Regions from separate parts of the Homo sapiens genome. Here regions 2, 3, 4 and 5 are each linked to region 1. The links come from fine-mapping of genetic effects on gene expression. A gene starts in region 1. Each other region holds a variant in brackets. All regions are shown on one strand. Distances are between the middles of the regions.

What was found. PIP is the estimated chance that this variant, and not a neighbour inherited with it, causes the effect.
Region 2: its variant is fine-mapped to the expression of DBNDD2 in amygdala (GTEx, PIP above 0.99).
Region 3: its variant is fine-mapped to the expression of DBNDD2 in whole blood (TOPMed, PIP 0.94).
Region 4: its variant is fine-mapped to the expression of DBNDD2 in gastroesophageal junction (GTEx, PIP 0.97).
Region 5: its variant is fine-mapped to the expression of DBNDD2 in tibial artery (GTEx, PIP 0.97).

What each region holds. Positions count from the first base shown.
Region 1 is chr20:45,405,968-45,411,067 of GRCh38, forward strand. DBNDD2 (dysbindin domain containing 2) reads left to right here and starts at 2,322. Exons shown (of 3, transcript NM_001048225.4): 1 at 2,322-2,639; 2 at 2,834-2,971; 3 at 3,965-4,640. The coding sequence starts at 2,501. The coding sequence ends at 4,173. It overlaps SYS1-DBNDD2 (SYS1-DBNDD2 readthrough (NMD candidate)), which reads left to right. Exons shown (of 6, transcript NR_003189.2): 4 at 2,493-2,639; 5 at 2,834-2,971; 6 at 3,965-4,643. LOC107985404 (a long non-coding RNA gene) reads right to left here and starts at 1,922. Exons shown (of 5, transcript XR_007067608.1): 1 at 1,782-1,922; 2 at 147-465. It overlaps LOC107985405 (a long non-coding RNA gene), which reads right to left. Exons shown (of 2, transcript XR_001754640.2): 2 at 4,608-5,100. RefSeq lists an enhancer at 910-1,459.
Region 2 is chr20:44,735,138-44,740,239 of GRCh38, forward strand. KCNK15-AS1 (KCNK15 and WISP2 antisense RNA 1) reads right to left here. Exons shown (of 5, transcript NR_132377.1): 2 at 3,683-3,797; 3 at 2,374-2,433. Among named protein-coding and RNA genes, the nearest start is that of KCNK15, 8.2 kb to the right of the region's middle. The variant G/A (reference allele first, on the strand shown) is at 2,311.
Region 3 is chr20:45,377,059-45,382,160 of GRCh38, forward strand. TP53TG5 (TP53 target 5) reads right to left here and starts at 1,267. Exons shown (of 5, transcript NM_014477.3): 1 at 1,131-1,267; 2 at 481-555; 3 at 154-284. The coding sequence starts at 1,178. All of the region lies in intron 3 of SYS1-DBNDD2 (SYS1-DBNDD2 readthrough (NMD candidate)), which reads left to right. The variant G/C (reference allele first, on the strand shown) is at 2,629.
Region 4 is chr20:44,456,721-44,461,822 of GRCh38, forward strand. All of the region lies in intron 2 of LINC01620 (long intergenic non-protein coding RNA 1620), which reads right to left. Among named protein-coding and RNA genes, the nearest start is that of LINC01620, 6.1 kb to the right of the region's middle. The variant C/T (reference allele first, on the strand shown) is at 2,060.
Region 5 is chr20:45,369,543-45,374,644 of GRCh38, forward strand. It overlaps TP53TG5 (TP53 target 5), which reads right to left. Exons shown (of 5, transcript NM_014477.3): 5 at 3,015-4,469. The coding sequence ends at 4,365. The region is part of intron 3 of SYS1-DBNDD2 (SYS1-DBNDD2 readthrough (NMD candidate)); the gene reads left to right. It also overlaps a transcript of SYS1 not described here. Among named protein-coding and RNA genes, the nearest start is that of TP53TG5, 6.2 kb to the right of the region's middle. RefSeq lists an enhancer at 3,801-3,860. The variant G/A (reference allele first, on the strand shown) is at 3,133.

The DNA.
Region 1 (5,100 bases):
TTCCAGCTCTGACCCGCCCGGCCGGCCCGGCGCCCACCCCGCCCAGTGTGCTTGGTAGGTTGGGCGGCGGCTCTGTCTAGTCCCAGAGCCAGGAATCAGGGGCAGCCGGGCGAGTCCCAGGGCAGGGGTCCTCCGCCGCCTTGCACCTGCCCTGCTGGGCGGCACCGGGTCAGTGCCCTGCCCCCTCCTGCGGGTCCCAACTCTCTCTTTCCCATCGTGCGTCCTCTGGAGAAGTGCGCGCGTGTAAGTGTGGCGAGTGTGGCCAAGGGTGCCGGAGGCAGGGTTCGGGTGCGTAGTCGTTGCGTGGGCGCTGCCCAAAAGGCGCAGAGCATCAAGTGTGCGTGGGCAGAACCGGCGCGGGCGCCCGCCGCGGGTCTGCGCGGGGCGGGGGCGCAGCAAGTGCATCCGAGCGAGCGGAGACTAGCGCACCGGCGTCGGTGGCGAGGGTGGTGCAGAGGAGTCCGGCTGGGCGGAGGGAGGAAGGATGGGTGCGGGTAACTTTTTGACCGCCTTGGAAGTACCAGTAGCCGCGCTCGCAGGGGCTGCCTCCGACCGCCGGGCGAGCTGCGAGCGAGTGAGCCCGCCACCGCCCCTCCCCCACTTCCGCCTCCCGCCTCTTCCTCGTTCCCGGCTCCCAGGGCCCGTCGGTCCCCCGGGAGCCCTGGAGGCGCAGCCCCACCCCGGCCGGCGCGGCTCGCTCCCACGCCCCCGCCGCGGCCTCGCTGGAGCGGACGGACTGAGTCAGAGGGGGCGCCAGCGCTGCAGGTAGGGGCTCCGGCGGCGGTGGGCGCAGGTGCCGCGGTGGACCGCGGAGGGGACCGGAGCACGAGGGGAACGGCCTTGGGGGAGCGCCCTCCCCCCGTCCTCCGCCGACGCCTCGTGTCCCTTTTTAGGGAATTTTTTCCCTCTTGCTGGCTCCAGTGCGGGTGGGGCTGAGACCGAGAGGGAGTTCTCCATTTCGCTGGCTCCTGCCCGGCCCCTGGCAGCCTCCTGCCCCCAAATCTCTTCACCCCCTTTCCAGTACCTATAGGTCGCGTAAACAACTCCCTTTCTCCAGCTCTGGGCTCCGCGGCCCCCCGGGGGACAGCTCCTTCAGTCTCGTGAGATCGGTGGGGTTAGGGGGAGGGGAAAAGAGAGGGGGTGTCCCAGAGCCCCTGGCCCCCGTCAGCTCCCCCACCTTGGCCTCTCCCTCCCCCTCCTCGCTGCTGGAGCACAGGCTCCAGGGGCCCTGGGTATTTTTAGCGTTGTGACCTGGGCGGCAGCTCTAAGAGCCTTTCCCGGGAATCGGCGTCAGCGCCTCGCTCCTCCGCCGCCAGCCCGCGGCCGCACGGTCTCCCCAGACTTCCGTGGCCCTGCCTTGGCCAGTCGGGGTTGGGTCCCTCTCCACCTCTGTGGCGCCCGTGGAGCTGGCCAGGGTCTGGGATACGCTGGGTGCAGATGAGGTGGGGAAGGCAGTCTGCGGAGGATGACGTCTGATCCTCAAGCTAGAAACTCCCTTGCCTCTGGTGATGGGCTCAGAGCAGAACGCCGGGAAGGAGATGAGCGAATGGGAATGAATGCACCGACCTGGGCTGGCCCATAGCCTCAGTGCTCTGGCAGGGTCTCAGCTTCTCAGCCCTAGGGGTCAGGAGGCCTGCTCTGAACTGGACCCAGAACCCGCCTTTCCAATTGCTCCTCACTGACTAATGGGGAGATAAGTCAGTGAGATGTGTCCCAGGAGGGGGACGCATAAAGAGCTGTTGGAGTTCAAAGGAAAGATGGTAGTCTCCTAAATAGCTCACCTTCACAAGCAGGGTCTTGTATTTGAGGCAGGTAGGTTGGTTATGCCATTTTCAGATGGGGAGACTAAGACCAGAAAGGTGATTTCCTTAGGGGCAGAGCCTAGTCTGGAAGTCAGGCCTGTGACTTCAGAGCAAGGGTTTGGGGTAGATGGCACATGCGTGTGTACGTGTTTGTGTGGGTGGAGAGAAAAGGAGGGGCGCGGGAGGAGTTGCTTTAGCCTTTGTCTGGGTTTTGAAGGATGGGAAGGGGTGGGCTGCAGCACTGGAGGAAGGGAACCCTCCACCCTGAGATCTCTGTCTCTATCCTATCCTGTCCCTGGCCTTCTGAGGCAAGCGGGGCCAATTAAGGGGAAAACGTACCTCCTCCATTTGTGCTGAACCAATCCCTCCAACCCCTCTCAGGAGGGCATGATATGGAGAGTTGGGCATTGGCTGTGTTCCCTGAATACAGAGTATCTCTCTTGTGGTGCCTGGAACTGGCATCCCCTTTGTGGAGCTTAGGGCAAGCCCCGCCTCTGCATGAGACTTGGTTTGTGGGACACACTTGGTTTCAGGGAAGGGGAAAGAGGTCACCAAGGGCAGAGGTGTCCAGGCCGGAGCCAGGGGCCCCACTGTTGGGATGCTGGCTGCAGTGGGGCGCCCCAAGCCCAGGTCCCCTCTGTCTTCTCTTTCGACTTTGCAGCTGTACTTGTTTTGCTCCTCTACCCGCAGGAGCTGACATGGACCCAAATCCTCGGGCCGCCCTGGAGCGCCAGCAGCTCCGCCTTCGGGAGCGGCAAAAATTCTTCGAGGACATTTTACAGCCAGAGACAGAGTTTGTCTTTCCTCTGTCCCATCTGCATCTCGAGTCGCAGAGACGTAAGTCCCAAGTCCTGAGAAGAGGGACTGGGGTAGGGTAGGGAGGATGTCCTGTGGGTCCTGAATCTTGTGGCACTCTCTCCCCTCTGGTTTTCTTGGCCCTCTATGCTTCTAACTTGGGACCTGACATGTAACTCTCACTGTCCTGGTGTGCAGCTTGGGTCCTCCTGACTTGCCCACTTCTTGATCCGCAGCCCCCATAGGTAGTATCTCATCCATGGAAGTGAATGTGGACACACTGGAGCAAGTAGAACTTATTGACCTTGGGGACCCGGATGCAGCAGATGTGTTCTTGCCTTGCGAAGATCCTCCACCAACCCCCCAGTCGTCTGGTATGCCCCTCTGCTTTGGGGACTTCAGTGCCAGTCAGCCAGAGCCGGATGTCAGGCTCTGAAACGAGGCTACAAGGCTGGGCTGGGGAAGTACACAAGTAAGGGCTGGAAGTGGGTGTTTCTACCAATGAAACAGCTGCCTGTTCTGATTTTAGGGAAGTTGACCCTGAGGGAGAACTGGGTTACACATCTCTAATCCAAAATTCTGGGAACGGTCAATCTCTTCTTTAATTTTACATTTGTTATATTAATATAATTAGTCACTATAATTAAAATAATGTAAAATTGTAATTTTTATATTTGGCAACTTAAGTAGTTTTAGTCATTATAATGATATTAATATGTATTGAGTACTTTAGTAGGTTCCAATACTGTACTAAAGTACTTTACATATATTATCTCAATCCTTACAACGTCCTGTCAGGGTAGGTGATATAATCTCTATTTTATAAGCAGGAAATTAGGCTCAGAGAAGTTAAGTCACATTGTAGCCAGAAGGTAGATAAACTGGAATTCATGTCTGTCTGACTCCAAAGCCCATATGCTTAACTTGTAAGATAGATATTCTTTTAATTAAAACTGCTACTATTTATTGATGGCTTACTATGCCAGACATTTTATAAGCATTCTTAGGTTTTATTCCCAAAACCCTTTGGGGATGTAGGTATCCCTTTTATTTTGCAGAGGAGGAACAGAGTCCTTGAAAGGGAAAGTGACTTGCTCAAAGCCACTCAGCAGCAATAAGTGATGTAGGTGGAACTTGAACTCTTGCCATTCATTGACCTGACTGTAGATCCCAGACATGGTGTAATGACGTGGAAGGAGCTGGCAGTCAGGAGATGGTGATCTTAATCCTGGCTCTTTGCTGGATTGGCAAAGTCACTTTGGACAAGTCTCTGCCCCACTGTGGACTTTAGTTACTCCTGGCCAGATAATCTTTAAGAGTTCTCTGAAGCCCTGTTTGTGGCCTGACCAGCTTTTCTCTCTGGGCAGGGATGGACAACCATTTGGAGGAGCTGAGCCTGCCGGTGCCTACATCAGACAGGACCACATCTAGGACCTCCTCCTCCTCCTCCTCCGACTCCTCCACCAACCTGCATAGCCCAAATCCAAGTGATGATGGAGCAGATACGCCCTTGGCACAGTCGGATGAAGAGGAGGAAAGGGGTGATGGAGGGGCAGAGCCTGGAGCCTGCAGCTAGCAGTGGGCCCCTGCCTACAGACTGACCACGCTGGCTATTCTCCACATGAGACCACAGGCCCAGCCAGAGCCTGTCGGGAGAAGACCAGACTCTTTACTTGCAGTAGGCACCAGAGGTGGGAAGGATGGTGGGATTGTGTACCTTTCTAAGAATTAACCCTCTCCTGCTTTACTGCTAATTTTTTCCTGCTGCAACCCTCCCACCAGTTTTTGGCTTACTCCTGAGATATGATTTGCAAATGAGGAGAGAGAAGATGAGGTTGGACAAGATGCCACTGCTTTTCTTAGCACTCTTCCCTCCCCTAAACCATCCCGTAGTCTTCTAATACAGTCTCTCAGACAAGTGTCTCTAGATGGATGTGAACTCCTTAACTCATCAAGTAAGGTGGTACTCAAGCCATGCTGCCTCCTTACATCCTTTTTGGAACAGAGCACGGTATAAATAATAAACTAATAATAATATGCCAACCATTCGACTTCATTTTTCATATTGCAAAGATATCAAACCCACTACATGTCTTTAGCTCTCTAACCGATCCCATATTCCTATCACTCACTCATTCCATTTATTCAAGAAATGTTTATGGAACACCCATGCTAGGCATCTGGAATACAGTTTTGAGCAAGACAGGCTGTACTGTATACCTGCCTTCATAGAGTTTACTGTTTATGGAGGAGAAAATCAAGTAAATACTACAATTCACAGTGTAATAAATAGCATGATGAGGAACTACTCTGGTACCAGAAAATAGGGGCATGTTAACCTAGTTTCTATGGTCACTGAAGAGCTGTTTTTAGCTGAAGGACGATTGGGAGTTAGCCAGGCACAGTCCGTAAGCCAGGCAGAACGAGCAGCTCGTGAAGACTTTAAACGGAGAGAGCATATCCTTGAGGAGCTAAAAAACATTGCGTTTGGCTGAATTGTTGG
Region 2 (5,102 bases), 670 kb before region 1:
AAACTGGTGCTGCGCTGCCTACTCCAGATGGCTGATGTGGCATCTGTGGAATGCAAAGTCTCCCTGAGTCTTTTCCCCACGTCAGGAAGATTGCTTAAGTATCAGACTGCAGTTGCCAGAATAAATCTAAATTTATTTTAAATGTTCATGTCAACAGTCATATTTGTAATGTTTTTTTCCTTAAAAAACATGTTGTACATATGGATGTTCGTCATTGCTATTTATACCTTTATGCCTGTCTTTATTAGCTAGGGTAAACCAGATCCCAGTAATAAATAAACCCGAAATCCAGTGGCATACCAAGGGACCAGGGGAGGTGGTAGTGTTACAGGAAGGGGGTCCCAGTCCAGACCCCAAGAGAGGGATCTGGATCTTGGAACTCGCGTAAGAAAGAACTCAAGGCGAGTCCATAAAGTGAAAGTGAATTTATTAAGAAAGCAAAGGAATAATGCTCCATAGACAGAGCAGCCCCGAGGGCTGCTGGTTGCCTATTTTTATGGTTATTTCTTGATGATATGCTCAACAAGGGATAGATTATTAATGCCTCCCCTTTTTAGACCATATAGGGTAACTTCCTGACGTTGCCATGGCATTTGTAAACTCTCATGGCGCTGGTGAGAGTCTAGCAGTGAGGACGACCAGCGGTCACTCTCGAGGCCATTTTGATTTTGGTGGGTTTTAGCCGGCTTCTTTATTGCAACCTGTTTTATCAGCAAGGTCTTTACGACTTGTATCTTGTGCCAACGTCCTATCTCATCCTGTGACTTAGAATGCCTTAACCATCTGAGAATGAAGCCCAGCAGGTCTCAGCCTTATTTTACCCAGCCCCTATTCAAGATGGAATCGCTCTGGTTCAAATGCTTCTAACAGTGGGAGTTTTCTCCCTGGTGAGAAGGAATATTTTAACACTAATGTTTAGAATTGCTGGCATGTGGTGATAATAAAAAGCAGATTGACTTTTAGACCTTTTCATTACTGTTTTAAAATTCTGTACAGACAATGTACCCCTTTATCACCTGCATCCACTTCCACTACCACCAGCGCCATTGGAACGTCACTGCCAAAATGCTTACTAGCCAAAGCACAAAGTCTATGTGTGTTACGTAACATTCCCTATGGGTGCTTCTGCTTGGTGGGCTCCCCTACATGGTGATACAGGGACTCAGGATCCTTCGTCTAGGGCTCCTCCTTCCTCTCTCCTTCTCCCAATCATCTGCATCCAGTAAGGCCTGACTAGGTCAGGGAGGAAGCCCAGACAATCAATTCATGGAGAGCCGGAGCCAGGAAGTTGCACACAGAACTTCTGCTCTTGTCTCATTGGTTAAAACTCAGTCACATGGTCACACCCAACTGCAAGGGAGGCTGGGAAATGTAGTCTATCTACATTTCATGTGCTATCACAAACATCCATCAGTCTTTGCCACAATGTCTTAAATATTTCACAATAAAGAAATGTCAAATGTTTGTGTTAGACAAGAATGTGGATAAACTACCTTCTTTCTCTAGTATAGGAATTTTACCATGGGACAGATAGTCATGGTTCAAAGTCATGAAACAAATGATCTCAAATTTTATACTGTCCCAGTGACCAGAATGCTGAGTTCACAGAGCTTTCCACTGCCTCTTTCTCCTACTCAGATGATTTCCCTTCTATCTGAGCACATGCCTAGACTACATTTCCCAGTCTCCTTTGCAGCTAGGTGTGGCCATGTGACTCAATCTTTACCAATAAAATATGAAGGGAAGTGACATGTGCCACTTCCTGACCTGAGCCTTACAAGTTTGTGTGCCTGCTTCGAGTTCTTTCCCCTTCCCATTGGCTGCAACCCTCTGTGCCCCAGCTTCCACTGTGCAGACAGGAATAGTATCCTGGGGCAGTGCAGTGATTCTCAAACTTGCAGAATCACTCGGAGGGCCTGTAAAGACACAGATGGCTGGGCCCCACACCTAAAGTTCCTGATTCGCTAGGCCCAGGATAGGGCTGGAGAATTGACATTTCTAACAAGTTCCCAGGTGCTGTTGAAGCTGCCAGTCCAAGGACCACTCTGGAAACCACTGTCCTAAGGAATGATGGGGTGCACTATGAAGAAACCTGGGTCTCTGAGTGGCCCCCTGGATCATAGCTGCCTTGACAACTTGGCAGCGCAGTTGAAAAAGAAGTAAACTTTTGTCTTCTTTAAGTCACTGCACTGCTGGGCATCTTTGTTACAGCAGCTTAACCTTTAACCACACTAACAGAGTTGGGATTCTGTCACTTGCAACCAAGAGTCCTGACCAATACAGACTCGAAGCTTAACTTCAGTAAGTTCC[G/A]CCACTAAGAGAGTTTGCTTCTTTTTTCCTGCTTATCCCAAACCCGCAGTTTTTTCATCTTACCTTAGTATTGACCAGGATTCCGGAAGGAGATATGCACATGCACCAAGCCCTAGGAAGGACCTGGAAGGTGGAGAATATTCCACTATGCTACAATCTTTTCAAACATTAACATTATTATTATCTCAACTACTTGCCTGAGTCCCTTGAACACAGGCCCAGCTCTGAAATGTAGTTGCCATGGGGTCTGGAAACAGCCCAGACACCCACTCCTCATTGGTGGGTACCTCTTGTGCTGTTTTCCTGGCTCTAGGTGAACATTCACACCGTGCAGGTAAAGAAGGGTGCAAATGCAGGTTATGGGGACTCGTGTGGCTCAAGCTCTACCTTGGAATGTGTGGCTCAGAGCCCTGGGGATCAAGCTTGGCAGTGGGAGAGGAGGTGGGGGGAAGGTTCCATGGCCCTGAGAGAAGAGGACTCACAACATCTTCAGGGCTCTGTTTCCTGAGGTTAATGGGCCCTCAGCAAAGCACTTAGAGGGTGTTTCTGTGTTTCTCTTGCCTACTCCTCTGCCATGAATAGGTGGGCCACAATGGGGTCCATGTAGAATAGTGTTTTTCCTATGGTCATTTAGCAAGTCTTGGACAGAGTCCATTTGAGAACCAGGCCTCCTGTCTCCCAGCCCAGGGATTTAAAAAATTATCCCATCCTAGTTTGGAAAGCAGCCATGTCCCGAACTGCAATATGGGCTCTGGCCTTTGGAGGACCAGAGAGAGCCTAGCAATGGCCTCTTCCACGTCCTGAAGAAAGTACTGCAGGGGGTGGGCACAGTGACTCACGCCTGTAATTCCAGCACTTTGGGAGGCTGAGGAGGTTGGATTGCTTGAGCTTAGGAGTTCGAGACCAGCCTGGGCAACATGGCGAAACCCCATCTCTACAAACAATACAAAAATTAGCCAGGCATGATGGCTTGTGCCTGTAGTCCCAGCTACTTGGGGGGCTGAGGTGGGAGGATAGCTTGAGCCCAGGAGGCAGAGGTTGCAGAGCCAAGATCGCACCATTGCACTCCAGCGTAGGTGACAGAGTGAGACCCCTGTCTCCAAAAAAAAAAAAAAAAAAAAAAAAAAAAAGTTCCTGCAGGCATGATATGGTGGTATTTGACACCTCTTGTCCGTCCTTGGCTTTGGGGCTTTAGCTGTAAATCTGAGACAATAGGAAAAGTCCCATTTAAGAGTCTCTTACATGTGTGTCATTTAACTTAATCCTCATGACAGCCTTATATGGGAAGTGTATTAAAGAGGGTAATGCTAGTTGCTATAGCGAACAGCCCCCAAGATCTAGTGGCTTAACACAATAGCAGTTTATCTCTTACCTAATATTGCAAGGCAGGTGTTTGTTCCTGGTTGGAGAGATTTCCTTTACGTGGTGATCCGGGTGACTTCCATGTTGCAGCTTTGCCATCCTGCAGGGCTTTGGGTTCTCTGCATCTAGACAGACAGGGATGGAGAAGCTCACCTACTTCCTCGAGGCCCTGCCTGGAAGTGACACTCACCACTCCTGCTCACATTCCATTGGTGGAGACTAGTCACATGGTCACACCTAGATGCCAAGGATGCTGGGAAATGTAGTCTCCAGTGGGGCACATGTCTTCCAGAGACAATTCCACACTATGGAGTCTTTTCCAGAGTTAGTGCACAAAGTCCTCTTTACTAATCTGTTTAACCAGCTTGCCAGGCTAACCAGCGCTCTCCATGCTCTCTGAATGCAACGCTACTGCCCCAGGCATACTGAATGCTTATGGCTAGTAAGCCATTCCCTAGGCCCCTGGTCGCCTTTGGCTCTTGGCCGTAGAAGAGCATGCTTGCCAACAGTCTGCTGGGTCTGTTCCCAAATCAGTTTGCACACAGCACACTTAATATTGTAACAATGTAACTGAATTAGATATTCCATAAACTGATGAAATATGAGTGCAAAAGGAAGAGATTTGTTTTTCTGAAAACTGAATGAAGACTGGTTGCTAAAAAGAATACTGTCAAATTAGGTGTGGAAGAAACAACTACAAAACATCTAGAAAAAAAAAAACCCACAAGAATCTAGAGGGATTCTGCACTCCAGTTGCCATACAAATGTCTGCAGGTCCTTGCCCCACTTTAAAGAAACCAGAATTGGCCAGGGACGGTGGCTCATGCCTGCAATCCCAGCACTTTGAGAGGAATTACAGGTATGAGCCACTGTGCCCAGCCCCTGCAGGACTTTCTTCAGGACATTATACCAGCTTTCCTTCCCTCAAAAGCCTCCTTAGCCTATATAAAGCGAAGATTATGAATAAATGTTAAGGGCAGGTTTCTGGAACCAGACAGCCTGTATTTGAATCAAGCAGTCCTCCTGCCTCAGACTCTCAAGTATCTGGGACAATAGGCTCACACCATGGCACCTGGCTTGAAATTTCAACTTAATTCAATTTTAATTAATTTAACTATAAATGGCCACATATGGTTACTGGCTAAGGCATTGGGTAGGGAAGCTCTGTGTTACACTAACATTAGCACATGTATTTCTTCACGTCTCAGGCTCTTTCTTTGCCTTGACTCTTTCTAGCCCATGATGTCTTGTGAAATGCAAGTCCTGCCCCCGTTGATTCAGACAGACAGCTCTTGATTCCAACATATTATGCTGACTGGGAAAGGGAGGGGTGGTCCTTGGCAGGAGGAAAAGGGACAGGCCTCTGTCTGTAGCAACTGGGCTCAAATTGCCATATGGCAGCAACTGCCACCTGTAACACTGCCATGCTA
Region 3 (5,102 bases), 29 kb before region 1:
GCCTCAGCTCTCCAGCAGTAAAATAGAGTTAATAAATACCTCTCTCACAGAGGCTTTGTGAAAATTAGACTTGTTCTCTAAATGCCTTAGCACAATGCCTGTTCCCAGAAAGACGGCATTTGGGTCCATTATGGGGGCCAGGCCCCAGCTTACCCAGAGGAGATGCGGAGAATCTTTGGAACACTGAGCAGTGAATGCCAACACCTTTTGGCCAGCTTATGCAGTTCTTGGATCCGGCGGTTTGAGCTCTTGAGTAGCTTCAAGAGCGACAAGTTTTTTAACACCTGCCAGGGTCAAGAAACCAGGTAAATAGAAGCTTCAGCTTTCCTGGACAGCCTCCCTCTCCCCTGCCTGCCTCTGGCTCCGCTCAGCCAAGGGCCGGCCTGCTGGCTCCCCTGGGCCACTCAGCCTGGCAACCAGGGGCAGTACTGCATGAGTATATGAGCTTCCCCAAGCTGGGGCCAAAACAGGGCGTCTCACCGTTCTCAGACGGTTCCGCTCAATTACTTTGCTCACAGGCTGCTCTGTCTCGTCCCGCAGTTTCTCATCTTGCATCTGAGGGACAGAGGATAAGAGAGACATAAACCCAGAGGAATCAGCCAGGTGTGGTGCCTCATGTCTGTAATCCCAGCACTTTGGGAGGCCGAGGTGGGTGGCTCATTTGAGGTCAGGAGTTTGAGATGCCTGGCCAACATGGTGAAACCCTGACTCTACCAAAAAAAAAAATACAAAAATTAGCGAGGTGTGGTGGCATGCGCCTGTAGTCCCAGCTACTCAAGAGGGTGAGGCAGGAGAATCACTTGAACCCAGGAGGTGAAGGCTGCAGTCAGCTGAGATCTCGCCACTGCACTCCAGCCTGGGCGACAGAGTGAGGCACTGGAGGAATCCTCCTGAACTCCTCCATGTGCCTCTTCATTTGGCTGAGCATGGTTTGACCAATCCTAGGCTGGGAGTTTTGTCATCTTGGTCTGGGGACAGAACTGGGAGACCATTTTAACTCTCCTGACCTCCCTTCACCCTTCACCTTTTCCTTTTCTCCCATGCTGGAAAGCCCCTTTCCTTGGCATGGTGGATTCTTTGTTAAGGTCCCCTCTAGGGACTCACCCCCAGGGTCTAGTCCCAAGTCTGACCTTGGAAACCCTGCTGTTCTTGGGCCTCTTCTTTGCTGATGGACTCATGCTGGGGCTGTGAGACCTCAGAGATGAATGGAGCAACACCAGTGCCAGGCACCAACCCTGTTCCTCTCAGTTCAGCCAGCACTCAGGCTGGGCATCAGATGGTGGTGCTGGCTCTGTACCACCTGCAGCTGTGACATCACTGAAATGTGACAGTAGCAGGGCTGGGTCTCCAAGGAGTGTATGTGGCAGAGGTGAGGGGTAGAGGGTGAGAAAGAAATATAGACAATAGGCGACAGACAGCTGTGTGCATTGTCACAACCTCCCTGTGGGGTAAGAGGATTATCCCCTCTTTTTAAATGAGGAAGCCAGGGTTCAAAGAGGTTGAATAATCTACTCAAGGCCACACTAGATCTAGCCCAGCTAGATCATAGTGGGCTGGAAACCTAACCAAGGTCTGATAGTCAACCCATGAAACCAGGGATTCCCAAACCATGCTCATCCATTCAGTCATGTCGCCTGTTTTGACTGGGCGCCTGCTACATGCCAGGTGCTTTTTCTTTTCTTTCTCTTTTTTTGTTTTTTGTTTTTTGAGACAGAGTCTCACTCTGTCGCCAGGCTGGAGTGCAGTGGTGAGATCTTGGCTCCCTGCAACCTCCGCCTCCTGGGTTCAAGCGATTTTCCTGCCTCAGCCTCCCAAGTAGCTGAGACTACAGGCACCCGCCACCACGTCCGGCTAATTTTTGTATTTTTAGTAGAGATGGGGTTTCACCATGTTAGCAAGGATGGTCTCGATCTCTTGACTTTGTGATCCGCCCACCTCCACCTCCCACAGTGCTGGGATTACAGGCATGAGTCAGCGCGCCTGGCCTTGCCAGGTGCTTTTTCTAAGTGCTAGAATAACAGAAAATTCTTGCCCTCAAGCTTACATTCTAGTGGAGGGGAAACAGTGTGTGTACTTGTAAATGTTTAATAATTGGCTCTCTGAAGCAAAATGTATATGTGTTTGTATTATAAATTTTACTGATAGAAATCAACAAATAATAGAATCCTATAATACTCTTTATTGTAACTTCTATTAGTGAGTTGCTTCTTATAGTATGCTTTTCTTGGATTTTGCCTAACCCCTCCATTTATAGCCAACCTATGGTTGTAATGGATAAACAAGTATAATACCAACATTAATGTTTGTATTTTCATTTACACTAAACAGTAAGAAGAAGGTGAAAAAGTGAAACAACAGAGATATTGAAATTTAACTCATTTATCAATGATTTCATTGACCTATTTGCTGAATTAGACCATAGTTTTTGAATACTGGAGATATATTTCTCAGATTCTTTTTGTTATTTACAATCGAATAGCTATGGGCAGGACACTTGCTTATGTTTTCTCTTTTTTTGTTGTTTTTGGGGGGTCTTTTTTCAGATCTACATATGATTCATATATGATATATTTCTACTCTACAGATATACAGATATAAAGAATCCTAAGAACATAGATAATAGTAAAA[G/C]GTAGTAAAAAATAGAAAGTGACAAGTTTAAGCATTTTTCACCCTATGTTTTTAATATCACTTATTTAATTGGAAGTTGCTATCAATTACATTTTAATGATGGCCGTGCCTAACAACCAGCCTGCAGAATTCCTAGAAGTGTAACAGTAGACTTGTGAGCCCTTATGAGTTAGCCCCAGCACGCCAATGCTACATCAGATGGAAATAAGTGCCTGGAGAACAGCAACCAGGGTAAAGGGAACAGGGAGGGCAGAGGTAGAGGGTTTGGTATATTAAAAAGGTGGTCTAGGAAAGATTCACCAATAAGATGAGATTTGAGCAGACACCTGAGAGAGAGAGGGAAGAGGAGAATGAATGGTGGTGGGAGAAGATGAGGCAGAGAGGGAGTCGTGGTGGGTTAGGCAGATCACAACAGGCTGTAAAGGGCGCTGGCTGCCCTGAATCCCTGGTGCCCAGCTGGCTGCATCAGAATAGTATGAAGAGCTTGTGAAAAACATTTTTGTGGGCACCACCCCATTCAGCAGGCCAGTCAGATAACCAATCAAATGTGGGACCCACTCCACACCATTCCACTTCTAGTGGGGAGAGATGTACATGCACGGGGGGTGGGTGCTTAGCTCTGAACGGAGGGGTGAGGGGCCAACCCTACCTAGGCTGTGGGACAGCTTCTCACATATAAATATCCTTTCTTATTCAAGTGAAGGTTAGGTAGTGGGTTAAACTGCTGCTGTGGCCTAGGAAAGAAAGCAATGTGGTAATTTGGCAAGGAAGACACAGAGGGTGCACCCTCTCTCTCTCCTGTCTACCCCCATACTCCTTGGCTGCTCTGCCTGCTCAGACATACCCCTCCTTGCACACAATTTCAGCTCTGATCAACTGGACTTCACTGAACAATGCTGCTCTGAGGCCCTGGTGCCTGGTGGGCTGTATCAGAATCACCTATACTCACTACTCAACTCCTGAGCTTCCAGGGCTGGGGAATCACTGTGTGCTAGGCACTAAGGGACAGCAACATTATAGGCAGAGCATGCCTCTGAGTTCACAGGCCAAGGGGATAGGTACCCCAGAAGGTAGACTCCTCAAGGGCAGGGATTTGTGTCCGTTTTATTCATTGATAAGCCACCAGATCCTAGAACAGTGCCTGGTGGACAATGGGTGCCCAAAAAGTATTTTTTGAAAAATGAAATAAATAGCATGATACGGGTAATACTGAGGGTTGTAGGAGCACAGAGGTGGAGCCTCCCAACCCAGCCTGAGGATGTCAGGGGATCTTCCTAGAGATGGTGAGGAGGAATGAAGGATGAGTAGATGTTGGCCAAGCATAGCGGTATGGGGCAGGTCGAGGGAGGTGGGCAGAGCATTCTCAAAAGAGGGAACTTAAAGAATATGAGTGTGGAATGGAATTATGTTGTACATTGGATGTTGCTAGATTAGAAAGCAGTAGCCAAGAGTGGCAGGGGTGAAAACTGGAGAAGTGGGTAAAGAGACCTACCCAATGACACACAGCTGGTAAGCCTTGTGGACTAAATCCAAGACTCTTGAATGAAAACCTCCACTCTTTTTTTAAAAAAAAAATATGGCATAATAAGATATGGATAACACAAAATTTACCTTCTAACCATTTTTGTTTTTGTTTTTGAGATATAGTTTCACTCTGTCGCCCAGGCTGGAGTGCAGTGGCGCAATCTTGGCTCACCACAACCTTCACCTCCTGCATTCAAGTGATTCTCGTGCCTCAGCCTCACCAGTAGCTGGGACTACAGGCACACATCACCACGCCCAGCTAATTTTTGTATTATTAGTAGAGACAGGGTTTCACCACGTTGGCCAGGCTGGTTTCAAACTCCTGACCTCAAGTGATCTGCCCACCTCGGCCTCCCAAAGTGCTGGGATTATGGGCATGAGCCATCGCACTCAGCCCTAACCATTTAAAAAAGTAGTTGGGTGACATTAAGTACCTTCTCTTTGTACAACCATCATGGATATCCATCTTTAAACTTTTTTTATCCTATGGAATTGGATCTCTGTATTCCATTAAATAATAACTGCCCATTTTTACCTCCCCCAGCCCGTGGCAGCCATTGTTCTACTTCCTGTCCCTATAAATTTGACTACTCTAGGAACCTCATATAAGTGGACTAATACAATATTTGTCTTTTTTTTGTGACTGCCTTATTTCACTTAACATGTCTTCCATGTTGTAGCATGTGTCAGAATTTCCTTCTCTTGTCCGGGCACGGTGGCTCATGCCTGTAATCCTAGCACTTTGGGAGACCGAGGCAGGTGGATCACCTGAGGTCAGGAGTTCGAGACCAGCCTGGCCAACACGGTGAAGCCCCATCTCTACTAAAAGTACCAAAAATAGCCAGGCATGGTGACGGGCACCTATAATCCCAGCTACTTGGGAGGCTGAGGCAGGAGAATCACTTGAACTTGGAGGGTGGAGGTTGCAGTGAGCCAAGATTGTGCTACTT
Region 4 (5,102 bases), 950 kb before region 1:
AAGAGTGAAACTCCGTCTCAAAAACAAAACAAGACAAAACAAAACAAAAGGACCTAAGGCACAGAGAGTTTGAGTGACTTGCCTAAGGTCACACAGCTAAGAAGCAGCCAAGCCTCAGGGCTTTTGTCTACTCTGAATGGCTATTCTCCACCACCCACCCCACCTTGCTGCCAACTCTCTGCTCGGACCCCAGCACGGTCTATGAATTCAAACCCTAACCCTTTCTAGAGCTTTGGGCAAAGCCAGGAAATTCCATGAAACCCCTTCAAGGCCTGGGTTCCAGTTCCCCCAACTCCAAACCAAAAGAGAGCAAAACTAGCCCTCCTTGCAAGGTGGCTGTGAGAAAACAGTGATAAAAATTAATTATAGGACTTGTATGTAATAAAAATAATTGCAGGGCTCCTGGCAAACAGCCCAGCTCTAGAGATACGGACTGATGATAGCAGGCATTTATGGCCCTGCGGCCCAGCCTTTCTGAGGCTGGGGTGATAGGAGCCGGGTCACGAGGTGGGGGTGGTCACAGGCAGGAAACTCCCAGCAGCAAGGCCTGGGCCTGTCTCTGATGCAGCCTGCACATTGGTTTCAGGGACGCTTGGAAGGACACTCCCCTAGCCTCGGGGGGTCACCATTAGTTATCCATCTGGTTGGGTCTGATGTTGCTTGCTGTTTGCCTTTCTAAAAACCTACAAACAAGGCCAGGTGTGGTGGCTCACACCTGCAATCCCAGCACTTTGGGAGGCCAAGGTGGGTGGATCGCTTGAGGTCAAGGGTTCAAGACCAGCCTGGCCGACATGGTGAAACCCCATCTCTACTAAAAATACAAAAATTAGCTGGGCATGGTGGCGGGTGCCTGTAATCCCAGCTACTCAGGAGGCTGAGGCAGGAGAATCACTTGAACCCGGGAGGCGGAGGTTGCAGTGAACCAAGATCGTGCCATTGCACTCCAGCCTGGGCCACAGAGTGAGACTCTGTCTCAAAATAAATAAATATAAAAACCTGTAAATAATGAGCACTTTACAGTGACTTCATTCATTCGTTAATTCTCAAGGCCCCAAGGATAGGCAGGGAGCAGATATTGGTGGTGGTGGAGGTGGAGCAAGGCCCAGAGGAGACAGTGGTTCATTCTTCCTCTATCCAATGGATATTTATTAAGGGCCACTCCATGCCAGGTGCCTCGCTGTTGGAAGGTAGTGACAGGGACACCAGGGACTTGCCCAGGATCACAGTGGGTGGGAGAAAGTCAGGGCTGGCCCCTGGGTCCTCAACACCAAGGACAGTAGTCTCATTGCCACAAAAAGAGACCGGAGTGGTTTGTCCCTTTGGAAAAATGACTCCCTCTTAGGATTCTAGCCTTCCCTGCAGGCATTCATAGTTAATTCTTAAAGACATCAAAAACCCATATTAGAACTCCAGTAATTTTTTTAATGAAAACGGAACCTACTTATCACAAAAGCTCAACCAATAAAGAGAAGTACAAATAAGAAAGTTCAAAATGTGGAAATTTTACTACCCAGAGAAAAATGCTCTTAGCAGAGGTAGCAGAGCTAAGTGGTCAAGAGCACAGACTCAGACCAAAGTGCCCAGGGCCACGTGCTGGCTTGCAACCTAACCATGCTAGAGTGTAGCCTCTCTGCTGCCTATTTCTTTACCTGCAAATCTGTATAATGGCAGCACCTGTCACACATAGGGTATTAAATGTTAGGAGCATGAAACAAGCTAACCATTTGTGGAGTGCTTAGCACAGCACTCAACACAGAATAAGTGCTATTTAAAGGGTTGTTCAGTGTATCCCCAGACGGGGCTCCATGCAGACATACCACACCTGCTTATGGTCTTAGGACCTGATTTTATATATGTATATACACATATATATGTATATATACGTATATATATATGTGTGTGTGTGTGTGTGTGTGTATACACACATATATACATATATGTATACACACATTTATACATATATATATACACACATATACACACTAAACAAGATATTCCAGGCACATTGCCATGTCTATAAGCTTCTTTCTATAAGTAAGAATTTGATTTAGGCTGGAGA[C/T]AGTGGCTCACACCTGTAATCCCAGCACTTTGGGAGGCCAAGGCAGGAGGATCACTTGAGCCCAGGAGTTTGAGACCAGTCTGGGCAACTTAGTGAGACCTCCCTAAGGTGTTGCAATGTGCAGCTGTAGTCCCAACTAATTGGGAGGCTGAGGTGGGAGGATTGCTTGAGCCTTGGGAGGTAGAGGTTGCAGTGAGCCAAGATTGTGCCACTGCGCTGCAGCCTGGGCAACAGAGTGAGACCCTATCTCAAAAAAATAAAAAGAATGTACGTTTCATATCGGTAGAAACTTTCTGGCTGTTTCAGGTCCTAAAAGAGTGCTTGGCACATAATAGATGTGCAAAAAAAAAAATGTTGAATGAATGAATGACTCTAATTTAGTCAATATCCATGACAAAGGGATCTGTTACATACTGGGTGTGTGACTTTGAGCAAGTATCTTCAAGCCTCTGAACTTCAGTCTTCTCCTAGGTTTCATGGGTATGACACAGATAACATGTACTGAGTTAACTCTGTGCTGGGACTAATTTGAAGTGGTTTATATGGAATATCTCCTTTAAACCATACAACAGCATTTGAGGTACTATTATTAGTCCATATTAATGTGGAGTTAGCTGAGGCATAAGGAGATTAAGTAACTTGGCTAAGGTCACAAGTAAGAGGTGGAGCTAAGAGACAAGTCCCCCAGGCCTCTGATACCACAGTGCATTCACTTACCACCACTCTATACTGCTTTTCTAAGATAACCCACCCTTGGCCACCGACAGTAGAAGGAATAAGTACATGGTGGTACATTTGTACAATAGAATACTATACAGCAATTGAGTGGCTCATGGGCTGGGAACCGTGGCTCATGCCTATAATCCCAACACTTTGGAAGGCTGAAGCAGGTGGATTACTTGAGCTCAGGAGTTTGAGACCAGCTTGGGCAATATACCAAGACCCCCATCTCTAAAAAAAAGAAAAAGAAAAAGAATACTATACAGTGATTAAGAAGAGCACATTGATGCCAGGTGCGGTGGCTCATGCCTGTAATCCCAGCACTTTGGGAGGCCAAGACGGGAGGATCATGAGGTCAGGAGTTTGAGACCAGCCTGGCCAACATGGTGAAACCCTGTCTCTACTAAAGATACAAAAAAAAAAAAAAAAAAAATTAGCCAGGCATGGTGGCACGTGCCTGTAATCCCAGCTACTTGGGAGGCTGAGACAGGAGAATCACTTGAACTTGGGAGGCGGAGATTGCAGTGAGCTGAGATCATGTCATTGCACTCCAGCCTGGGTGAAAGGGCAAGACTCCATCTCAAAAAAAAAAAAAATAAAATGACATCCTGAATTTTTATGGCAACCCTAAAGTTTGCATATGTATGATTCCATTTATGTGAAGTTCAGAAATAAGCAAAACGAATAAATGGTAATAGAATCAGGAGCATGGTTTCGTTGGGTGGGAGTAGGAGTGAGTAGAAAGGATATTAGAAAAGCTTTACATCTTGATCTGGATGGAGGTTACCTGTGTGTATACACATGTAACAATTCACCAAGCTGTACACTTAATGTTTTTACCTTTTACAACACTTGTGAATTACAACTCCATAAAAAAATATTTTTAGGCCAGTTGCGGTGGCTCATGTCTGTAATCCCAGTACTTTGGGAGGTCAAAGGCCAGCTTGGGCAACATGGCAAGACCCTGTCTCTACAGAAAAATTAAAAAATCAGCCAGGTATGGTTGTGCATACCCGTAGTCCCAGCTTCTTGGAAGGCTGAGGCAGGAGGATTGCTTGAGCCCAGGAGATCTCGGCTACTGTGAGCCGCAATTGTGCCACTGCACTCCAGCCTGGGCGACAGAGTGAGACCCTGTCTCAAAAAAAATTATATATATATACATATATATATATGTGTATATATATGTATATACGTATATATATATGTATATACGTATATATGTGTATATATATGTATATACGTATATATATAATACACAAATTTTTTAAATCCCACAGAGCGATATGCCCTATTATAAAATCTTTGATAATATTCTCTAACTGATGGGATGTTTGCAAGGTTAAAATGTGATAAAGTTTGTGACTCTCTTGCTACATTTTAGGCTCTCATAGTAAGAACTCAATGTTAAATGTAAACAGCATTGTTAAATGTAACAGCAGCATTCATACAGCATCGTTATTATCATGGCTTTTTGTATTTCTCTCTATTGCTGATAGACTGGAGCGCCCTCGAGTGTTTAATTTGTTATAGTACCTCAGTTATTACAAAGAGCACCCTAAACCCAAGTTTGTAGTCTCAATGCCAAAGGGCAATGCTTTTCTTTTCTTTCACTCCAGTGCCACATAAAAAAGGACCAAAACATGACCTCCTGGGAGCAAAGAAACACCAGGTTGCCTAAGGAGAGGTGAACTGGCCCAGGCTGGAAACAGAGCAGGTCAAATCTCACGCCCTGATCAGTGGTGGGATCACGCCTGTGAATAGCCACTGCAGTCCAAACTGTGAGACTCTGTCTCTTAAAAAAAAAAAAAGTAGCAAAATTCACATCAAATCAATGGGTCCCAAGGCCAACTCAAGCCCTGCCCATGGTCACTCCCTGAAATGTGTCAGAAGGAAGGCAGAAGGGAACACGCAGCTCTACCTCCCTTTGATGCAAGCACATTGCAAATATCATCTCGTTTCACAGGAACTCACATAATATTTGAATGTGGCATCATACTGACTACAAAAATCCTTTCATATTACTAATAGTCACAGCTAGCTTTCAGTGACAGTTTCCTGTGTCCCAGGTACCCTACTAGGAGCTAGATGTCATTGTTAGCTTTGATCTTTAAAATGGCCTGTGAGGCATATATTCTTTTGTAGCCTGCTTTTTTCCCTTCAGCAGTACGCTTTGGGCATCTTTCCATGTCAATAAATAGAGCTGGGTCGGAAGTAACTGATTCAAAGGCTGAGAAACTTAAACAGTCAGCAGCCACTGCCCAGGTGAAGATCAATAATAGTTAACATTTATTGAGTGCTTTATTACACACCAGGCCCTCCACTC
Region 5 (5,102 bases), 36 kb before region 1:
TAGCTTTCTAAGAAAAGCTGATATGCAGTACATTAAATATAGCCAGAGATTTCCTTTTTTTTTTTTTTTTTTTTTTTTGAGGCAGGGTCTTACTCTGTCACCCAGGCTGGAGTGCACTGGTGTGATCTTGGCTCATCATAGCCTCAACCTCCCAGGCTCAATGATCCTCCTGCCGCAGCCCCCCAAGTAGCTGGGACTATAGGCACATGCCACCACGCCCAGCTAATTTTTGTATTTTTATTTTTATTTTTATTTTTTTAGAGACAGGGCTTTGCCACTTTGCCCAGGCTGGTCTCGAACTCCTGGGCTCAAGAGATCCACCTGCCTCGGCCTCCCAAAGTGCTGGGATTTTACAGGTGTGAGCCACCAAGCCCAACTGGCCTTTTTTTTTTTTGAAACAGAGTTTCACTCCGACTTCATTACCCAGGCTGGAATGCAGTGGCCCAATCTCAGCTTACTGCAACCTCTGCTTCCTGGGTTCAAGCAATGCTCATACTTCAGCCTCCCAAGTAGCTGGAATTACAGGTTGGCACCATCATGCTTGGCTAATTTTTGTATTTTTCATAGAGACGGGGTTTCATCATGTTGGCCAGGCTGGTCTCGAACTCTTGGCCTCTCAAGTGATCCACCCGCCTCAGCCTCCCAAAGTGCTGGGATTACAGGCATGAGCCACTGTGCCCAGCATTGGCCAGAGATTTTCAGATGATCTTAGGAATGTGGGAAATCTATTTCCAAAGGATAAAGGAAGGTACCTAGATAAGAGAGTACTAGCCCACTACTGAGTTGGCATATCTCTTAACTCTCCAGGTGTCTGAAGTTGACCTCCCTTTTTCCCACCCACCACCTGAACTCTGGCCATTCAGAGAGAAAAGTGGAGACTCCTACATAGCTGATGGTCAGAATAGTTTATAACCCTTAAAGGAGGACAGGAAAGGAAAAAGGGATGTCTGGCTCAGAGGGTACTTCTAACCCCTCGCTCTAGGCAGCCCTGTCCATATCAGTGCCAAATGAGAGCCACGATGGCAGCCAGCAGACATCAGGGGGTACAATGGGAAGCTCCAGGACTCCCAGCATCCTGGAGGGTACACAGCTCAAACAGTCTCCCCTGGACAGGAATCCCCTTGGACTCCTTCCTCAGCAACTCCCAGGTCAGAGTAGCTTCCTTCTGCCAGCCCCAGAAGGCAGTCAGTGCACAGGTATGCAACACCTCCTTGTACCGGCAGCCCAGGGACCACGGAGTCTCAGAGGTAGGGCCCTGGGGACCTAGGGCAGAGGAGTAGGGATGGAATCAAGGTACAAGAGAACTCCTCTGTGGAGAGATTAAAAACCACTGTCTTAAGGTTTTCTGTTGTAAAGTAATAAAGGGTGGTAGAAATAGCATTGAGGCAGGAGGGAGTAGAGGGAGCTGAGGGTTTTAATCCCTGCCCTGCCGCTACCTGGGCAAGTCACAGTCATAGGTCCAATTCTGGAAGGCTTTAGAGAGCTGCAGTGGAGTGCAAAGTCCTGGAGTCCCATTACTAGCTGTGAGATCTTGGGTAAGCTATGTTACCTCCCTTACCTAGATTTCCTCATATGTAAAATGAGGGTAATAATGGTACTTATTTCCCTGGGTTTTGTTTTGTCTTGTTTTGTTTTGTTTTCTGGTAGGTCAACACTTACTTCTTTAAAATGGAAAAAGTGTTCCCTCCCTGGTTTTATTGTGAAGATGCAATAAGATGTCACGTGTAAAGCGCCTAGCCCAGCCCCTGGCACGTAGGAAGTGATCCATAATTCTAGACAATTATTAGGCTACCGTCCCCCCTATCCATTTTACAGAACAGGGACATTTTTCTTCTGAGCCTGTGTTTTCAAATGTTGGGGGATAGGCTTGCCAGTCCTCTAGGTACCACTACCAAGTATTGAGCTCCTATCTGGCATGTACTGCAAAGTGATTTATGTGTATTCTTACTCAGTCCAATAAGGTAAGCACTACTATTTCCCCCATTTTGCAGACAAAGAAACAGAGGATTGGGAGTAAACAACTTTTTCCCCATTACAAAGTTGGTAAGAAGCTAGGCCTGTCTGCCTCATCTGCTTTTCACGTTCCAGTTATGTTTATGTGTGATCCAGACAATTGTGAGACGGACAGTCTTAGGGATCTAAATGCCATATTAGCAAAAGGTTGTGAATGTAAACGTACGTTTGGCTTGTTAACAAGCAGCTAGTTCCATAAAGGTGAGTAGTTAGGTAGCTGCTGATAAGTGAGAAATGGAGCCGGGACTGACTGGCCACAGGGCTTTATTATGATGGCCGTGGTGTGGCGTGGGAAAAGGCCAAACATTTGTTCAATGCCCCACAAACTGGCTTCTCCTACATCAAGCTTGATTTGCTTAAACCCCCCTGAAACAGACATTAGTATCACTATTTTATAAACATGAAATAGGCTCAGAGAGGTCATGTGACTTCTAAAAAGTCACTCAATATAAAATCAGATTCAAACACTTCAATTTTTTCCCAGTTAACTGTTAAGCAGCCATTTCTAGGGTGGCCTCCTCCCCAAATCTGTGTTACTGGGCCCAGAGGAGGAGCTTTAGGTTGAAATGGTTAAACAAAGAGAGGGTGGTAGTGGGGAGACCCTGGTTGTGGAATTGTGGGAGGCAGGTGGCCAGAGGCCTAAGTGCCGGGGCAGGTGGGATGAGGTGGAAGGATGTACTGCTGGGATTCCCTCACTCCCAGACCTGCCCCTTGCTGCCCTGGCCATGCTGGGTCCCCGCCTTCGTATACAGCCCTCCCATATATTCAGTGGCGTTCCCAGTGGGCAACTGGGGCCCAACTCCGGCTCTCTGGAGCAAAGTGGAAGTTGCCAGTCTCACTCAGGCCCAACCCAATCCAGCCTCCACTTGGGGCTCCCTGGGCAGGCCCCCACGAAGGCTAGTGCAAGGGAGCTCCCCAGAAAGGGTCAGATTTTTTAGCTGGGAGGGCGCTGTCTTGACTGCCCGCTGACAGCGCACTCAGGACAGAAGTTCACGCAAAGGTTGATGGAATGGAAGAGTGAGTAGAGATTATTTTCGAAAGTTGATGGGATTGAAAATACCCAGCAAGGGAACTGCAAGGGAGACTGTTCAGGAAATGGGCTGGAGTGCAAGCTGGGTG[G/A]GAAGACCGCTGAAAGTGGTTACTGGGGTGGAATTTGCACGGGAATTAGCGGGGTGGTGGGGGCGGAGGTAGGCACCGACCGTAGGGGAGCTCCAGGAAGATTGCGCTGGGAGCAGGAGCTCGGGAGCACGCAGCAGCCACTATGAGGTGCTAAGCAGTCCCCGCGCTGTGGCTCCGCCCAGGCTGGTCCGCGCGGCAGCTGATGCCCAGTCTTGGTGCCCAGTAATGGTGGGGAGGAGTGTGTGAGTGGGCGGGGTGGGAGGGGGGGAGAGTCCATCCAATCGTTCTCCCTCTGTCCCAAACTGGAGATCTATCTGCATCGCTGCCCTGACCCCCAATCCCGGAGAGCTCTGTGCCCCTCGATGGCTCCACTGCTCTCCCGAGGGCGCCCACTCCATGCAGCCTGCCTCTGGGGAATATGGAGGTCTTCGTCCGGAGAAAACTCGGGCTCCCTTGGCTTTCCTCTCCCCAACGGCATGGTTAGGACCCTGTGACTCCTACCGACAGAGGGTGACCCCGGCCAGATGGGGTCGACCAGGGCTTGGGGTTGAGGTCTTCAGATTGAGGGTGGACCTGCCATGTCACCCTGGAGCAGTAGAGATGCAGTACCAGCTCCCCCTCCTGATCCGGTGCCTTCTGTGATCTGTGACCAAGGCAGGACACATTTGGAGGCCCAGCTGACATCCACTTTTTGACACCAGCCACAGTGCAATCAGTTTTTGACAATCAATTTTTGACAATCAGGTCGCAATGCACGCGCATGACCTACAGGGTGCTGGGGCTATTCCGCCTGCCTCGTGACTTCTGAGCAGGCTCTCATTTCGCCTTTTCCCTTTCTTGGGAAAATGGAATGGGGAGCAACCAGGAGCCCTTGCTCCTGCCACTTTCTAGCTGAGTGAGCCTGGGCAAGTTACTTGCTGCCTCCGCGCCGCGGTTTCCTCTTGCGAGCTCGCGGGGCGATTGTGAGGCACTTTGCACCCAGGAAGCACACGAGCGCCCTGACTTCACAGAGCGCGCCACTCAGGAGACTAGCTCGCGGAGGTGGGGGAGGGGTGCTGCTCGCTGGCTTCTTTGGTTCTAGACTGACCTTAGGGGCCTCGGGGTGGGGGTGGGGGAAGCCTGAAGTCGCGACACAGGCTCCCTCTACCGAAGGCCTCTTTCCTTCATCCTTCCCAGCCCCAGACAAACAGGCAGAGTAAGCAGTATTCGTCTTAGGTGCCATATGGAAGATCTTATTTGTAGACTCGTGAATTTCGCCACCCATTCCTCCCCTTCAGCTGATGGCGCGATCTCCACCCTCTGCTCGCACCTCTGGCTCTCGTCCAGGTCACATCAACCTGCCAGCAGAAACCTCGGTGTTAGGCGCTAAGACTGTCCCCAGGGGGCGCTGGTCGTTTGGGGAGCGGGCGCAGGGACAAGGGTGCTGTGGTGTCTGGTAGGTTGGAAATGCCTTTGCTAAAAAGGAAAAGCCTCCCTTTAAGCTAGACCCGGTGGGCACTCACCCCCTTCCTTTCGTGGGACTTTCATTCTCCCACGAAAGGGCTGCGGTATTTTCTTCTTTTTTTGCTAAGGAACTTTCTGCTCAGAGTAAATCTTTTTTTCCTTTCTTTTTTTTTAAGACAGGGTCTTGCTCTCTTGCCCAGGCTGGAGTGCAGTGGCGAAGTCACAGCTCACTGCAGCCTCGACTCCTGGGCTTAAGCGATCCTCCGACCTCAGCCTCCTGAGTAGCTGATACTACAAGCGCAAGGCACCACATCTGGCTAATTTTTAAATTTTTTGTAGAGACAGTGTCTCATTATGTTGCCCAGGATGGTCTTGAACTCCTGGCCTCAAGCAGTCTTCCTGCCTCGACCTCCCAAGGTGCTGGGATTACAGGCGTGAGCCACCATGCCTAGCCTGTTCAGAGTAAATCTTATTTGAGGCATGAATCAATCAAACATAAATAGAGAGTTGAATTGATCTTAGAGGGA